Linked DNA regions of Homo sapiens: region 1 is linked to region 2. A link means that fine-mapping ties the variant in region 2 to the expression of a gene that starts in the linked region. Tissue or cell type: whole blood. Region 2 holds a variant in brackets; the other region holds the start of a gene. All regions are shown on one strand. Distances are between the middles of the regions.

What was found. PIP is the estimated chance that this variant, and not a neighbour inherited with it, causes the effect.
Region 1: CERNA1 starts here. The variant in region 2 is fine-mapped to the expression of CERNA1 in whole blood (TOPMed, PIP above 0.99).

Annotation. Positions count from the first base shown.
Region 1 is chr15:52,175,630-52,183,810 of GRCh38, reverse strand. CERNA1 (competing endogenous lncRNA 1 for miR-4707-5p and miR-4767) reads right to left here and starts at 3,785. Exons shown (of 3, transcript NR_102751.1): 1 at 3,410-3,785; 2 at 2,609-2,761. It overlaps GNB5 (G protein subunit beta 5), which reads left to right. Exons shown (of 13, transcript NM_016194.4): 3 at 3,932-4,043. RefSeq lists enhancers at 3,255-3,344, 3,168-3,669 and a silencer at 3,715-4,374.
Region 2 is chr15:52,210,732-52,218,891 of GRCh38, reverse strand. MYO5C (myosin VC) reads left to right here. Exons shown (of 41, transcript NM_018728.4): 32 at 205-373; 33 at 4,202-4,289; 34 at 5,606-5,704; 35 at 7,008-7,162. Among named protein-coding and RNA genes, the nearest start is that of GNB5, 23 kb to the right of the region's middle. The variant C/T (reference allele first, on the strand shown) is at 3,357.

The DNA of each region.
Region 1 (8,181 bases), 35 kb after region 2:
GTCCTATCTCTGAGAATTTGCAAAGCTGCGCTCAATAGTGCAGCTGAGCAGAGCCCCCACTTGGTGAAAAGTGGTAAAGCACTCCTCCTGAAAAGCCCAGTAGGAAATCCCCACACATTTAAAAAAACAACAACAAAATCCATAATACAACCAAAGAGAGGAAAGATGACTTTTACATTTTATCTAACTGAAAAAGAAAAGGCACTTTTTATCCTCCTGATTCCACTGTAACCCCTGACCATGATTACATTAAAAATTATTCCCTTAAAGCAAATAGCAAGTAAACAGCCCAGGGTGGCATAAAAAGGCTTTGATACAGCATAGCAATTTGGATATGTCTTCAGCCTAGGTGTAGTGGGCTTCTACCTGTAGTATATTTCTACAGTCTACGTTCTAACTTGGCCCTGCAAATTGTAGAACTGAGGACATTTAGTTCTTAAAAATAAACCTGCTTTCTGGGGGCCTTACCCCCCCCCCATTATTTATTAATCTAACTCTTCTGCTTTTTAAACAACTTCCTCTGCAGGTGGAATAAGCCCAAGAATCCCAGATTTTGAGTCCTCTGTGGCACACAGGTTCTCCCTAGCACAGGGGCCATGCCTGGAGATACTTTTCTAGGGAATAGTTGCCAGCTAGCGCTACTATTAGGTTGGGGCAAAAGTAATTGCGGTTTTTGCCATTGCTTTCAATTGAAGCAGTGGCACGATCTCGGCTCACTGCAACCTCTGACTCCAGGGTTCAAGTGATTCTCGTGCCTCAGCCTCCTGAGTAGCTGAGGTTACAGGCACAAACCACTATGCCTGGCTAATTTTTGTATTTTTAGTAGAGAGAGGGTTTCACCATGTTGGCCAGGCTGGTTTTGAACTCCTGACCTCAGGTGATACACTCACCTTGGCCTCCCAAAGTGTTGGGATTACAGGTGTGAACCACTGCGCCCGGCCCACACAATCTTACTTAATTCTCATAACAATTCTCATTGCTTTCAATTGAAAGCAATGGCAAAAACCACAATTACTTTAATACAATCTCTACTCTCTACTTGGGGGTTCCCAAATATTCAGACAGCATCATTCAGCTGAAGAGACATCCAGTGACTGACAGCTGGCCTTTCATCCAACTGTTTGGGATTATGTAGACACAGTCCCCATTGGGCCCTTTTTGTGAATAGGAGTGACCCTTTATCTCAACCACTGTGGAATGTAGCTGACCTCAACTTTTCTGATATCCAGCTTCCTCAGTGGGAGTTAACACCAAAATACAAGAAAGTACTTGGAAAACTGCCTAACCATTAAAAGTCTGATGGCCTCATCTCTAGATAGTTGACTCTCCAGGTTGGAGGCTGTTCGAGGTTTATTTTACACAAAGAACCCCCAGAAGAGGGCACACACCAGTGAGAAGTACCACGTGCCTCAGGTCTTCACAGCCAGGAGGACCTTGAACCACACACACATCCTGCAACGGTCCAAACAGAGCCAGCCTAAGGAGGTGATGAGATGAGGCTGCCTTGCCTGGGCCCCCTGAGATGGCCCTTGTGAGAAGAATCCCCCATGACCCAGTGTCTCATTTAAATTACCTCATGTGAACTGCTCAAGCGTATCAGGCAGCCTCAGTAATAATAACAGATGCATACTGTGTGCCACGCACTGCTCTCTCCGAATGCCATACAGAGTCTGAAGGAGGTGTTGTCCCCCATTCACAGATGAGGAGCCTGAGGCACCACAAGTAAATCCCTCAGGCCACAGAGCAGAGCCAGGATTTGCCCCCAGGCAGTCAGATCTAGATAGAGCCTGTGCTCTTAACCTTTTGCTTTACAAACTCTCAAACAGGTGTAATATTTTTGCTTTTATATATTCTTATCTTATACTTAATAATTGTATTTATATATTTATTCATTTATAAACATGTTTGTTATATGTTTATATTTTTAACATAGTTTATACAGATTTATATATTTTATATATTTTTTATACATCCATTTAATAAACTAGCATTAACTGAGCACCTACCATATGCAAGTACTATGCTAAATATCTAAATACTAAGGAACAGCGACAAGTAAACCTATTATTATACGGATGGGAACGGAAAAGAGAACTAGCAGTGAATAAGCATCTGCTATGTACGGAGAAGTCTGCTAAAGTCTTCACCCACACTATCTTACCTTTTTTTGTTTTGTTTTTGTTTTTGTTTTTGTTTTTTTTGAGTCTTGCTCTGTTGCCCAGGCTGGAGTGCAGTGGCACGATCTCGGCTCACTGCAACCTCTGATTCCAGGGTTCAAGCGATTCTCGTGCCTCAGCCTCCTGAGTAGCTGAGGTTACAGGCACGTACCACCACGCCCGACTAATTTTTGTATTTTTAGTAGAGAGAGGGTTTCATCATGTTGGCCAGGCTGGTTTCGAACTCCTGACCTCAGGTGATACACCCACCTTGGCCTCCCGAAGTGTTGGGATTACAGGTGTGAACCACCGCACCCGGCCCACACCATCTTACTTAATTCTCATAACAATCCTATGAAGCAGATCCTATGAAGAAGCTTTTCCAGATAAGGAAACGGAGGATCCCAGACTCTAACCTGCAAAACAACTATGTACAGATTAACATCGAGTACCTTCAACTTTTCTCAGATAGAGAAGGCCCGGGACAGCAAGTGGAGGCTGGCTTCTCTGGGAGGGAGCAGGTACAGAGAGGTGGGGACAGCACCCAAGATTCTGCTTGGCGATGTTCTCGCAGCATCTGTAACTTTGATCTGCCTTCTCATTCTCTGCACAAACGCATGCAAGATCACATAGGAGGGAAAAAGGAGAAGGCTTGAGTTGGATCATCCACACCAAAGTCCAGAGCACTAGGGAGCCAGCCTGTCTGGGTCCAAATCCTGTCTCTCCCTCTTTCTTGGAGCATGCCCCCTGAGCAATTACTCAGTCTTTCTGTGCCCCAGTTTCCTCTTCTGTAAAGTGGGAATAAGTGTGCCCATTCAAGTTGACTCCTGTGAGGATTAAACAAGTGCAAATTAAAGCACTTAGAACAGTGCCTCTCACACTTCAGGCGCTTGCGGAGAGGGGATGCTTCAGTCTGACAGAAGTCGCTAAACGTGCATCCTGGCAGAACTGTGCCAGCCCTTCATTCTAAAGGGCAGGAGGTGGCCTCAGAAGTGAGAGGTCCGAGATGCCTGGGCGTGGGCTCAGAAGCCCCAGGTCTGAGCCTGCGCGCCCACTTGACCCACCGCCATCTCCTTTTGCCGCCCCCAGGCCAGGGACCTGATTCCTGCGTGAAGAAAAGAGAAAATAAGGGTGGGCCTCCTAATGCCGCAGAGACTCCGTCTGAGAACCCAGCAACTAGTTTTATTTTTGTATATTTAGATCAACAAACGAAGAGGGTTTCCGGTTCCTTGTTGGGGGAGCACCGTAGCTACCTGCGGCCAAGCCTCGTAGCCGTCTCCTCTCCCGTCCTCTCTCTGCCTGCAGGAGCCACGGGCCCGCAGCCCGCAATCAAGTCCCACAGAGCGGAGATCTGCACGAGAGGCTTGGGGATGGGAGGGCCATGTCGCGGGGGCCTCACCGGTCTCCCCAGAAGCGGGGAGTCCCGAGTTGGAATCCCGGCTTGGCCCTTCCCTCTGTGTGCGTCCTCGGGCAAATCACCCAGCATCCCTAAGCCACAGTTTGCCCGCTGGTAAAATGGGCGTCACACTCCCTGCCTCTCCCGGAGGAGAGAGGCTGACGCGGACATCGCACCAGGCACTGCGCCAGAGCGCGCGCCCAGGTGCGGGGTCTTGGGGCTCAGGCGCAGCAGCCGGGCCCGCAGCTGCTGGCGTCATCGCGGAGGGCGGGGCCGCGGGGCGGTGCTCGGGGCCGGGGACGGCTGCTGGAGCGGCGCCCGCCGCGGCTCAGCGCATTCCCGCTCTCCGCTTCCCTCTCCGCTGCGTCCCCGCGCGAAGATGGCAACCGAGGGGCTGCACGAGAACGAGACGCTGGCGTCGCTGAAGAGCGAGGCCGAGAGCCTCAAGGGCAAGCTGGAGGAGGAGCGAGCCAAGCTGCACGATGTGGAGCGTGAGTGCGGGCCGGGAGGCGGGCGGGGCAAGCCGGACCGGCTCGCCACTTCCCGGGCGGGGACGGCGGGGGCGGTGGGGGCGGTCGTGGCTGCGACGGGAGCCAGGCCCGCGCCACCGCCCGGGAGCAGGGCCCTGGGGCCCGGGCGCGCAGGTGAGGCGCGGGTAGCGGTCCCGATCCCCGGGACGCGCGGCGGTGGGGCCCTCGGAGGGTCCGGGCACCTGGCCGACCCCCGCCGCCAGCTAGCGGAGGACCGCGGGACTAGCTATCCTCATCACCTGCCTGGAAGCTGCGAACGGATCGCGTTCTTGCCCCTCCCATGCGGAGGGCAGGGGGTGGGGTGTCGGTGGTGACGAGCGAGCGCGGCGAGCCCGTGTAGGCGCGGCCTAGGAGAGACTCCTGTTTTGTTTTTTAATGCCCGTCTGGCTTTCTCCATCACTGTTGTATCTTTTCTCAGTTTTGCTTTTATGAGACTGCAATTTCAAAGCTCATTTTTCCAACCTCTCCCCTATCCTTGGGGCGGGGAGCTGGATGACGGAGAGAGAAGGGAAACGGAGGAGCTCACTAAATTCAACCGTTCAGTTCGTTTAAGGCTGTTTAAAAAGCTTTTGGATCGATGTGGTGGATTGGCATAAAAAAGCCATAGCGATCTTAAACTTGCATTCTTCACCACCACCACCGTAATTCAGAACTGGCTCTGTGATTTTTATGAGTGAGCGATTAAATAGCCAGGTTCAGCGGCTCTTGGCCAAAACAGCGTTCCTTTACTTTGTCAGAGGGCTCCTCCTCAGCAGAGCTTGGGCTGGGGGCCAGGCTTGGGGAAGTGGTTGTATCTGCTCACTTTTGAGCTCTGAGGGTGGCATCTCCCCTTTGCTGAGCACCTCCCACGGTGCCCTCCTGCACACCTTGACGTTGTTCTCCTGCCATTCCTAATCGATGCCACCCTTTACATTCTATGTGGAATGGAAAAATGGGGTTCGTGCTAGGGCCTTTACCTTTTGATCTCTGAAGATCACTTAAGAGAAGTGGATGACCTGGATCTAGCGTGTGCTGTGCTTTCCTAGGGGTCTTCTTTAAATAGGAGGCACTCTAAGCTTAGAAATCCTGTCCAGCAATCACTAACTGTAAACCCCAAATAATGTAGTTATGCAAATTGAGAGTTACTTTTCTTACATAACAAGAGCAAAGGTGGATGATCACCTGCTGTTGTTCAGCTGCACCATGCACCCCCCACCAAGGGACCCAGGCTCCTTCTGCCTTTCTTCTCCACACCTTAGAGCAGTGGCATTTGCCCCATGATTATAATATGATTGCCACAGCTCCAAACATCACTTCTGTATCCAAGGCAGGAAGAAGGGGGAATATGGACACCAATCTCTCTTTGCTCCCTATCAAGAAAGCAAAGCAAAAGTTTTCCCAGAAATCCTTCTCCCAGTTTGAGACCAGCCTGGCCAACATGGTGAAAAGTATTCATAGGTCATCTAATTTCTCCATTTGACAGATGAGGAAACTGAGGCACAAAGAATTAAAGGACTTACCGAAGGTCCCCTGCTAAGTGTTGGGACCCGGATTCCCCCCAGGCAATCAGAGTGCCAGCTCAGGCTCACTTCAGATTATTTTCGCCAAACCCGTTTTGAGCTTCATGCAGAGGGCGTTCTCCAGAAACTCACTTATTCAATAGTGCAGGCTGCATGCCTGGATATTTTCAGGTTTTCTGTGAATTTGTAAGTTGCCTTAAGACAGAGAGCAGAGATGCAGCTTTTCAAAGGGAACCTCAGGGGGCAAATGTAGTCAATCCAAAAGAAGAAACTTTTTTTTGTCCTGCCAAGAGTGTGGTGCCCTCAAAAGCTAGGGCCAGATTTTAGACCCACAGTGGAAGGGTCTATCCCTACCTGCATATGTCAGAATTTGTGAGCTGGAAAGACCAGAAGTCATGTGGTTGTGTCCCTCTTGATTCCCCTGCAGCTTCCAGACCACTTCTCTTCTACCCCGCATAAAGCCTTTGCTTCTTGAAGGTTCTTATCACTGTATTGACCTCTTCCCCTTTGACATGTCTCCTGATCTCCCAGCCAGGTTCTCTCATTTCTCTACTTTTCTTTTCTTTTTTTTTTTTTTTTGACACGGAGTCTCCCTCTGTCACCCAGGCTGGAGTACAATGGCACAGTCTTGGCTTACTGCAACCTCCACCTCCCAGGTTCAAGTGTTTCTCCTGCCTCAGCCTCCCAAGTAGCTGGGACTATAGGCATGTGCCACCACACCCAAGTAATTTTTGTATTTTTAGTAGGCTTCACCATGTTGGCCAGGCTGGTCTCGAACTCCTGACCTCAAGTGATCTGCCCGCCTGAGCCTCCAAAAGTACTGGGATTACAGGTGTGAGCCACCGCACTCAGCCATTCTTTTCTTTATTCATCTTTATTTTTAAGAGACAGGGTCTCGGACCGACAGGGTGGCTCACGCCTGTAATCCCAGCACTTTGGGAGGCCAAGGCGGGTGGATCATGAGGTCAGGAGATTGAGACCATCCTGGCCAACATGGTGAAACCCCGTCTCTACTAAAAATACAAAAATTAGTTGGGCATGGTGGCAGGTGCCTGTAATCTCAGCTACTTGGGAGGCTGAGGCAGGAGAATAGCTTAAACCAGGGAGTTGGAGGTTGCAGTGAGCCGAGATCTTGCCACTGCACTCCAGCCTGGGCGACAGAGCGAGACTCCGTCTCAAAAAAAAAAAAAAAAAAAAAAAAGGAGGAGCTAGGCAGAGGCCCCAGGAGGGGGTGTGTTTGGTGTATCTGATGTATCTGAGGAAGAGTGAGGAGGCAGGTGTGTCTGGAGGGGAGTATGCAGGGCAGAGTCCAGCTGCAGGTTATGCTGGGAGCTCATGCAGGACCCCATGGGTGCAGTGAAGATTTGGGCTCTTACTCCCAGTGAGTTGGGAAACCCTTGGAGGGTTTTGAGAGAGAGGATGGATCTGATTGCTTTACTGGGCTCACTCTGCCTGCCATGTTTTGTGGCAGAACAAGACAGCTTGAGGGAGGGAAATGAAGTGTGAGAGGTAAGTGACCTGGGGTAAGAGTTCTTGACAAATGTCTCTTTCCCTCTTATCAGAGAGCCTACCTTGCGTGCCACTTGCCAGCTCCTAATGGAAGTTACAGCTGAAGGTGGAAGAGCGAGAGATGATTTCTGAGCTTGTCTTGGTCCCATAGTTGACCCTGCAGCCGCTCTTACCTTACCCCAGCCCAGACTCGCCCAGCTCCTTCCTAAGTGTGTTTGTCCCTTGGCACTCAGGTGGGAAAGGGAGGAAAGGATGCTGATGAGTTTTACTTGTGGAAGTATAAGCTAGAGCCCTGCCAGGTGCAAACAACAGTGCTGTCATTTTTCCCTGTATGAAGGAAAGTGGTATCATCCCCATCTGTGCGATGAGCGAGCAGGCTTAGCAAAGTCGAATAATTCCTTCAGGGTCATGCAGCTGGTTAGTGATTGGGCCAGGATTCAGTTTAGGAATGATGCAGCTTTCTTTGCAGGGCTCCCCATTGAGCAAGTGGCTGAGAGCCTGGGGGAAGGTGGGAAGGGTCTGGTGAGGCTGGGGAGGACCATAAACTGAATCTGTTCACTCCCCAGAGCAGGGGCTGGCAGCATGCACTTTCCTGTATCTCTTATGGTGACTGGCAGCCCCTTAGTTAACAGATGTTTTTGTTTGTTTGTTTGTTTTGTTTTGTTTTTTTTTGAGATGGAGTCTGGCTCTGTTGCCCAGGCTGGAGTGCAATGGCATGATCTCAGCTCGCTACAACCTCCACCTCCTGGGTTCAAGCAGTTCTCCTGCCTCAGCCTCCTGAGTAGCTGGGATTACAGGCACATGCCATCACACCTGGCTAATTTTTGTATTTTTAGTAGAGACAGAGTTTCACTGTGTTAACCAGGCTGGTCTCGAACTCCTGACCTTGTGATCCGTCCACCTTGGCCTCCCAAAGTGCTGGGATTACAGGTGTGACCCACTGCGCCTGGCCGTTTTTTGTTTGTTTGTTTGTTTGTTTTTTGAGACGGAGTCTCACTCTGTCGCCCAGGCTAGAGTCCAGTGGCACAATCTCAGCTCACTGTAAGTTCCACCACCCAGGTTCAAGCGATTCTCCTGCCTCAGCCTCCCAA
Region 2 (8,160 bases):
TCCATGGACAGTTTTCTATCCCAGCCAGTCCTGGTCTCTTTTCTTTCCCCTGGAAGGACACCCCTATTCGAATACTATTTGCTTTACACAGAAATTGGCCAAGGTGTTCTTCCATCTTTGGAAATATCAGCACTTGCTATGACAGTGAGTGACTTCTCCATGACCGTCATACTGATACCAGCCATTCCTCCCTCCCTTTCTCAGGGCCTTGGAAGCCCAAAATGAAATACATACCAAAGAGAAGGAGAAGCTGATTGATAAGATTCAAGAAATGCAGGAGGCCAGTGACCACTTGAAGAAACAATTTGAAACTGAAAGTGAAGTCAAGTGTAACTTCCGGCAGGAAGCATCCCGGCTCACTTTGGAAAACAGGGTGAGAAGTCTTCTAACTTGGTGATAAAGACTGTCTGTGTGCAGATGTTGCTGAAAGGGGGGACATGCCACCTAAAGCATATGATTAACATCTATAGACCAAAAGTCCTTCCATCAGAGCAGTCTGTTTTCTTATCCCAAAAGACAGGTGGTCTCTGAGGTTGGCTTTGGGAAGGCCTTGGGGACTTACAGGCCCGCCTGGGGAGGGTGAAGGAGGAGAGACAGAGAGGTGCAGGCCGTAGTTCCCCAGCACTATCAGTGCACGGCACCACCCAGGATGGAGTCACTGTGCTCTGGAACACACTGAGGATAGCAAGGCCTACGTGTGAGTGCTTTACCCAGCAAAACTCACCCCATATAAGTGCCCATGCTTTCTTCTGGGGGTATGGCCTTCCTACAATTTTTAGAGTCAAAATGTTCTTCTATGAAATGATCATGATGTCGATGGAAGGCTTAAAAACTTTTTAAAAGTGTTTAAGGTCTTTTCTGAGTTTTAAATGCCCTTACCAAAATGAAATCGGGTAACCTTACATCAATTCCCAGCAATTATTTTGAAATTGTGATGCTGTGTGGAACCCAGAAGACTGAGAAGTGCTGAAGTGACAGGCCACTTTCCTAGGAGCTGGGACCCTCTCGGGCCCCTTCGAAACCTGAGAGCTTCCAGCTTCCAAGAGGGTAACGCAGGAGGGCTGACGAGTCCAGTGGGTCAGTGTGGACATGCCCACGTACCCTTCTCCCTGCTGACAGGGCCCCCATTTCCAATCTCACAGGAAAACCTTGATAGAGGAAAAACATATTTTGAGTGTCAGGGTTTAACTTTGAAGAGTGGTTACATCCAAAAAGAGAAATTCCAGGAGTTTGACATTTAATAGGAAGTAACAAATTCCAATCAGTGACACCTACATGACAGCTGCCTTTTCTGAGGTGGATACAACTTTCTCAGAGACTGGAATCCTCGTGTTACAACAGAGAAGCAACCGCCTGTTGTCCATGTGTGAGGCTGCCTTGCCTTGCCTTGCCTCCTGTGGGCCCCTGGGATCTCAATGGAGTCAGCGGTCAGGGAGAAGCTACATGGGTGGGTCATGTGTGTGCTGCGCATGTCATCCCATGTGATCCTTTACTCTGACTGTCCCTGTGCATTGTGACGGATTTATGAGTTCGTTCCTGGTGCCCTGGAGCACAGCTCGGTCCTGGCGCCCTCTTCTGGAGCTCCTCCAAGTGTCTGGCTCTGCTCCCCACAGGTGCGCTGAGCTAAGGAGCTGGCAGGCCTGACATGCTCATTTCAATAGCTCTTTCTGAACCCGGAGTAGCCTCACTGTTACATAGAAGCAGACGGACACACAACAAGAGTATCATCTCTATACATTAGCCGGCGGATTCTACCCACAAATGAGACCTGATCTGTATTAGTTTGCCAGGGCTGCTGTAACAAATGACCACAAACCAGGTGCTTTAAAACAACAGAAATGTGTTCTCTCAATTATGGAGGTCAGAAGTCTGAAGTCAAGGTGTCAGCAGGGCACACTCCTCCGAAGTCTCTAAGGAAAACCCTTCCTTGCCTCTCCCAGCTTCTAGAGGGCTCCAGGCATTCCTTGGTTTGGAACAGTGTAACTCCAGCCTCTGCCTCTCTGCACCTGGCCTTCTCCCTGTCTCTGTGTTCTTTTCCATCTGTTATAAGGACACCTGCATTGGATTTACAGCCCACCCTAAATTGTAGTAGCCACCTCTCATACTGACCCTTAGCTTACCACAGCTGCAAAGACCCTATTTCCATATAAAGGCACATTCTGGAGTTTGGGTTGGACATGAATTTCAAGGTGACACTGTTCAAACCACTATGTGATGCTTTGAGTCAAAGAAATTTCTTTTTTTTTTCCAGACTCTTTTGTCACTGAATTCTTATTAAGAGATTAAAAAAAAACTTTTAGTAATCATTTCACTATTTATCAAAGAAATTCAAAATCAAAACTAGGTACTATTTTTGCCTGTCAAATTAACAGAGACCTGGGCCTGGCACAGTGGCTCATGCCTGTAATCCCAGCACTTTAAGATGTCATGGCAGAAGTATGACTTGAGGCCAGGAGTTCAACCAGCCAGGGCAACGTAGTGAGACCCCATCTCTACAAGGAAAACTTTAAAAATATATATATAGTGGTGCATGCCTGTAGCTCTGGCTACTCAGGAGGCTGAGGCAAGAGGACTGCTTGAGCCCAGGAGATTGAGGCTGCAGTGAGCTATGATCACACTACTGCACTCCAGCCTGGATGACAGAGCAAAATCCTGTCTCTAAAAATACTACTACTAATAATAATAATAATTAATAGAGATCTTATGCTGCTGGAGAGAACATCTTGAAATGGGCACTGTCATACATGGTTGCTGGGAATATAAATTGGTATAAACTTTCTTGAGGGCTTATTTGAAGGTATGGATCATGAACCTTTGGAAAGTACATTCCCTTTGACTCAGTAACACAACTTGTAAGGTTCTATCCTAAGTAAATACTTGAACATGTGGACGAGATTTTTGTTCAGAGTGATCATCTTAGTGTTATTAATCATAGAGAAAAAAAGCAACCCAAAGGAGAGAAATGCATACCTAACAATAGAGCAAAGGTTAAATTGTTGTATGATATAATATGACTTGGCTGTTAAAATGATGGTTTGAGTATATTATCAATGACATGGGAAAACGTCTGCAGTATAACTAGAGAAAAATGTAGGATTTGAAATTTTGCATGTAATATGATCCCAATTTTATAAAATGTACATTTACCATATTGGGAAAAAAGGAATGAAATCAAAATGTGAAGAGTGGTTTTTTTCTGGGTTATGGGTTGATGGGTGACCCATTTTATTAGATATATTATAAGATGGGCTTGAATTGGAGGGAGGAAGCTGTACTGACACCGCCACTTCTAAGGTCAATAGAGTTCCTAACATGTCTAGCCAGGGACACAGAATGGTGGCAGGGAGAGAGGTGGC[C/T]GCACAGAGTAGAAACAGCACAATGTCCCTCGGCCCCAAGAGTCCCTAGAGGGCACACAGCTGCAGTGACCCTGCATGGTGGGTCTTTCTGGGTCAGAGAAGCCTGAATTCTATATGTGTCAAATGCTCAGATGTGGAAGAACTTAAACACTATGTCCTTTATAGGAAATATTTCTAGGTATCCAAGGACTCTTCTGGTTCTTGAGCCAAATTCAGCATGGGCAAGGCCACCTACTTATCAGGAAAGAAAGGCAAAACCAGGCCCAAATCTCTGAACATTTCTCTAGCTCCAGCTTCTGAAATCTAGAAAGCCCATTTTCCCACATTCATATTTTTAAATTCTCTATGATGGGCACTCCTATGTAATAAGAGCAAGATAAATGTAGTATATGCATACAATAGGATATTATTCAGCCATACGAATATATGAAATGCTGATACATGCTACGACATGGATGAATTTTGAAAACCTTATGCTAAGTGAAAGAAGCCAGACACACACACAAAAAACCTATTCTATGAATTTATTTATATGAGATGTCCAGAATAGGCAAATCCATAGAGACAGAAAGTAGATGAGTGGTTGCCAGGTGCTGGAAGGTAATGAGAAACTAGAGAGTGACACTAAAGGTCAGTTTTATTTTTGGAGTAATAAAATGTTCTGGAATTAAATAATGATGATTGTAGCACAACTCTGACTACACTAAAAAACCTTTGAGTTTACACTTTAAATGGGTGAGTTGTACGGTATGCAAATTGTATGTCAATAAAGCTGTTACCCAAAAAAAAAAAAAATAGATTAAAGTGCTTCTAAGCTAAATCCTGGTTTCTTTTTATTGCTGTAGGATCTTGAAGAAGAATTAGACATGAAAGACAGAGTGATTAAAAAGCTACAAGATCAAGTCAAGACACTAAGCAAGACAATTGGAAAAGGTAAGAAACAATACTTGTTTTCTTATTCTTTTGAGCTAAGGCTAACATGCGCTCAAGTGTTTATTTTCTTTCTGGTCCAAAGCTTATGAAACCCAAAGGAATGATTCTCAAGTGGTGAGGTTTGTGACCTAGTGCTGGGCTAACGAAAGGATCCTTTGGGTCAGGAAGACAGCTCCCTCCCACTCAGATGATACCAGATACATTCATGTACTCGCAAGAGACATCCTATAATTAACACATTAACCTCTTCCTCTGTTAGCTCCCTTTTTTAAAAAATGAAATTGTGAACAATTTTTCAATTTACTGCTTTGAAATTCACCTTCTCTCCCTGTTACATATGTAGGATCAGTAAGTATCCAAATTTCTATTAGAAAAGTAGAGAGCTAAGAAGCAGACATCCTGAACATGGACTGCATGGCACACATAAAGCATCCTCGTGAGCCTCTGTGAAAGGGACCCTCCTCCCTTCTTCCCTCCTTCTGCTTCTGTCACTGAACTTTTCTGTGTTCAGCTCCTGCTCACATTTCTCACTCTTTCATTCTTTATTACCTTTTCCCCTTCCTCCCAGCCTTACTGCCAAGGCTGTATCTTGTTTCTTTTTCTATATTCATCTCTTTGAAGAGCAGCTTTATTCTTACTTATCCAACTCTCACCTCAAATTTGAAATGTCCACAAGCAAACTGAGGATCCCTTTCCTTCAGTAATAAATGACAAATGGCAGTCTGCCCCATGAGAGCAGGGCCCAGGTCTGTGCTTCCCAGCCCCCGCTGCATCCCCACTGCTGGGATGAATGAATGAACCATCATTCACCACCCTGGCTCACCTTTCAGACTTCTGACCTCCAGAGCTGTATGATTAAACATTTGTGTTGTTTTAAGCCTCTATGTTTGTGATAACTTTACAGCAGCCACAGGAAACTAATACAGCTGTCTCAGTAAGGATCATGCACATTGGTATTTTGCACACCAAATGTTTCACAAGTCTTCTTTCACAGTAGCATTGGCATCTTGAAGACAAGGCAACATCTTGGATTTCTTTCCTGTTACCATGTGCTGGATACATATCAGGCACTCATAAGGCTCTTCAAAGGATAATTGGGCCTTTTCAGCAGCAGCTGTACTCACTGATGTACTCATAAAGAGGAATCACTACTTGGAGAAATTCTTCAGGATACAATACAGTACAGTTTTAATGTATCTGAAAGCCACAGACATTTACGTGCAAACCAGCCAGAATGGGGTAGGAGAGTAGTCACATTGTGAGACCTGTGAAAGCTGCTTTTGTGTATTTAGCTGATTGTTTGCCTCTGTCTACAGCCAATGATGTGCACTCGTCCTCAGGACCCAAGGAGTACCTTGGAATGCTGCAATACAAGAGAGAAGACGAGGCCAAGCTCATTCAGAACCTCATTCTTGGTAGTGAAACCTGGAACTCTGGATTTTTGCTTTCTCTTTGAGAACTTGCATATCAGTCAGTGCCAAAGTCCTGGGCAGGGGTGGTCCTTTTTCTACTTTTTCTTCCACTGCTTCTTCCCCCAGCCCAGAGTTTCTCAACCTCAGCACTGTTGACCTGTTAACTCTGTGAATGGGGAGTAACAAAGGATGGAGCAGCATCCTTGACTTCTACTCACTAGAAGGCAGCAGCAACCCCTAGTGATGACAATAAAAGATATCTCCAGGTATTGCCGAATGTCCTGTGGGGGCCAAAACTGTCCTCAGTTGAGAACCACTGCCCTGACCTTTTCCAAATTGTAGGACCAGGGTAGAAGAGAAACATCACCTCATTTTTGTGTCTCAGCACAGGAGCCATCATGGAAGCAATTGTGGCTCTGTGCTCCATTTGACTTCTGAGAAATTTCTCTGCGGGCAATGTGATGGGGCTTCCCAGCCATGCCTCAGTTACAGGAATGTCCCATGTGCATGCTCAAGAGTTGGTGGTCATAGAACCAATCTTACTGCACTGTCTTCACTGTGACCTTCCACGTGGTTTTCTGGCATAGGGAGAAAAATCTGCCTCCCTGTCAGCTGGCCCCAAGATCTCAAAACAGAAAGCCAACGTGTAGCCTTCCTTCCTCTTCTGCGAGTGACCCCCTTGGCTCATATGAGCACCTCTACCCTTTTCTTTCCCCTCATCACTGGTGTCATGCAGTGTGAGCCTCTTCTTTGTTCTTCTGTCTTCCTGCAGCCAGGGGACATCCTTGTTTGCTTATCTTAACTTTTTTTGTAAGATTTCTCTCTCCCCTTCATCCCCACTGAGCGTTTCCACCATTCTGTTCTCCTCAAGGCCAGCCAGGCATCCTCTGCTGCACTGGGTGTGCCTGCTTTCCCTATTCAAGGCAGCTTCATGTGACTGTGGACACTGTACGCCATCCTCATCAAAGCGCTTGGAGTAGGGGTGCATGGAATGGAGTTTCTTTCTTACAATGGGGGTCTGAAATCCAGGGTTTCCACACCAGGGAAAAATAAAGATTCTGTCTCTTATTCAACCTTTTAAGAAAGAGAAAGTCCTTTGTAAACAAGAAGAGGAACAAGTGACACCTGTGTATCTTGTGCCAAGAAAGGAGCCAGATGGAATTCCTCAAAGAGGAAATAAATCCATATACATTCAGGCACTGTGTCAAGCACAGAAAAGCAAACAAGCCCCTGCCCCTAGTCACAAGTTCCTTAGGAGAAGAGCTGACCTGTCAGCTGTAATCCTCATTGGCTCTCTCTGCTTCAGACTTGAAGCCCCGTGGCGTGGTGGTGAACATGATCCCCGGGCTGCCGGCTCATATCCTGTTCATGTGTGTGCGCTACGCAGACTCTCTGAATGATGCCAACATGCTGAAGTCCCTCATGAACAGCACCATTAATGGCATCAAGCAGGTGGTTAAGGTAGGAAATGCCTTTGACATTGGCCCCTGGTATCACATCTATGGGAATGACCAGATGCCCAGTCTTTGCCCATCCTGAGCCTCCATTGTGTGGTGAGCCACATGATTCCTCAAACAAGTTTGAGGCCCAACTAGTGAAGGGAGCCACACTGTTAGGGAAAGATAAATGGATGAGCATCTGCCATAGGCCTCAAAGCCTTACCGGCGAGACTGCAACCTGGTAGCCACTGCCCCACCACTGCTATCCCCTTAGGGTGTAAAGTTATCAGCTGTGAGGGGTATAGGTTCTATCTCTGTAACAAGGGTAAATCATGAGAAATGAAATGGAGTGAAAAATTATTCATCTCTTCCCTTGGCAATTATATAATTCTTCTTCCTAAAAGCACATTGTGTATTTTTATTCCCAGTCCACAAATGAAGATGAACTGTGTATTAGTTAGGTTAGTTACTTAGTAAAGTTAAGCTATTGTAGCTATGAGACACCTGCCACCTCCCTTTGCCCAATATACAGTGTCTTAAAGAAGATGGAGGATTTTTCTTTGCTGATAGCGGTTCCATAATGAGCCATCTAGGTTGGAAGGTGGCTCTGTTCCACGTGATCATGAAGGGACCCAGGTTCCTTCCAACTTGCTGTTGGCCATTCCCTAAGTCGGTGTCCTTATTGGAATGACTGGACAAGCAGGCAGCCAGCAGTTTACCACTGGGCAAGAGGGAACCTACCATAGGACACAGACCATGTGTGTATGGTATACATATCAGAAGTCACCAACTGAACTCTTTATGAGCAATCATCTCTTCATGGTGTGACAAGTGGATAATGATCAAAAGTGACAATGACAAAGGGCGGGATTTTGTGAAGGCTAACAGTAACATAAAGTTTATTGCTAATTTCCTTTCCAACTGAAACATAATCCTAAAATCATTCTTAGCATACTGATTATTTTTCCTGGAAACTCCATAAGTGATCAATGAGTAAATAACTGTATCTAAGCATTGAAG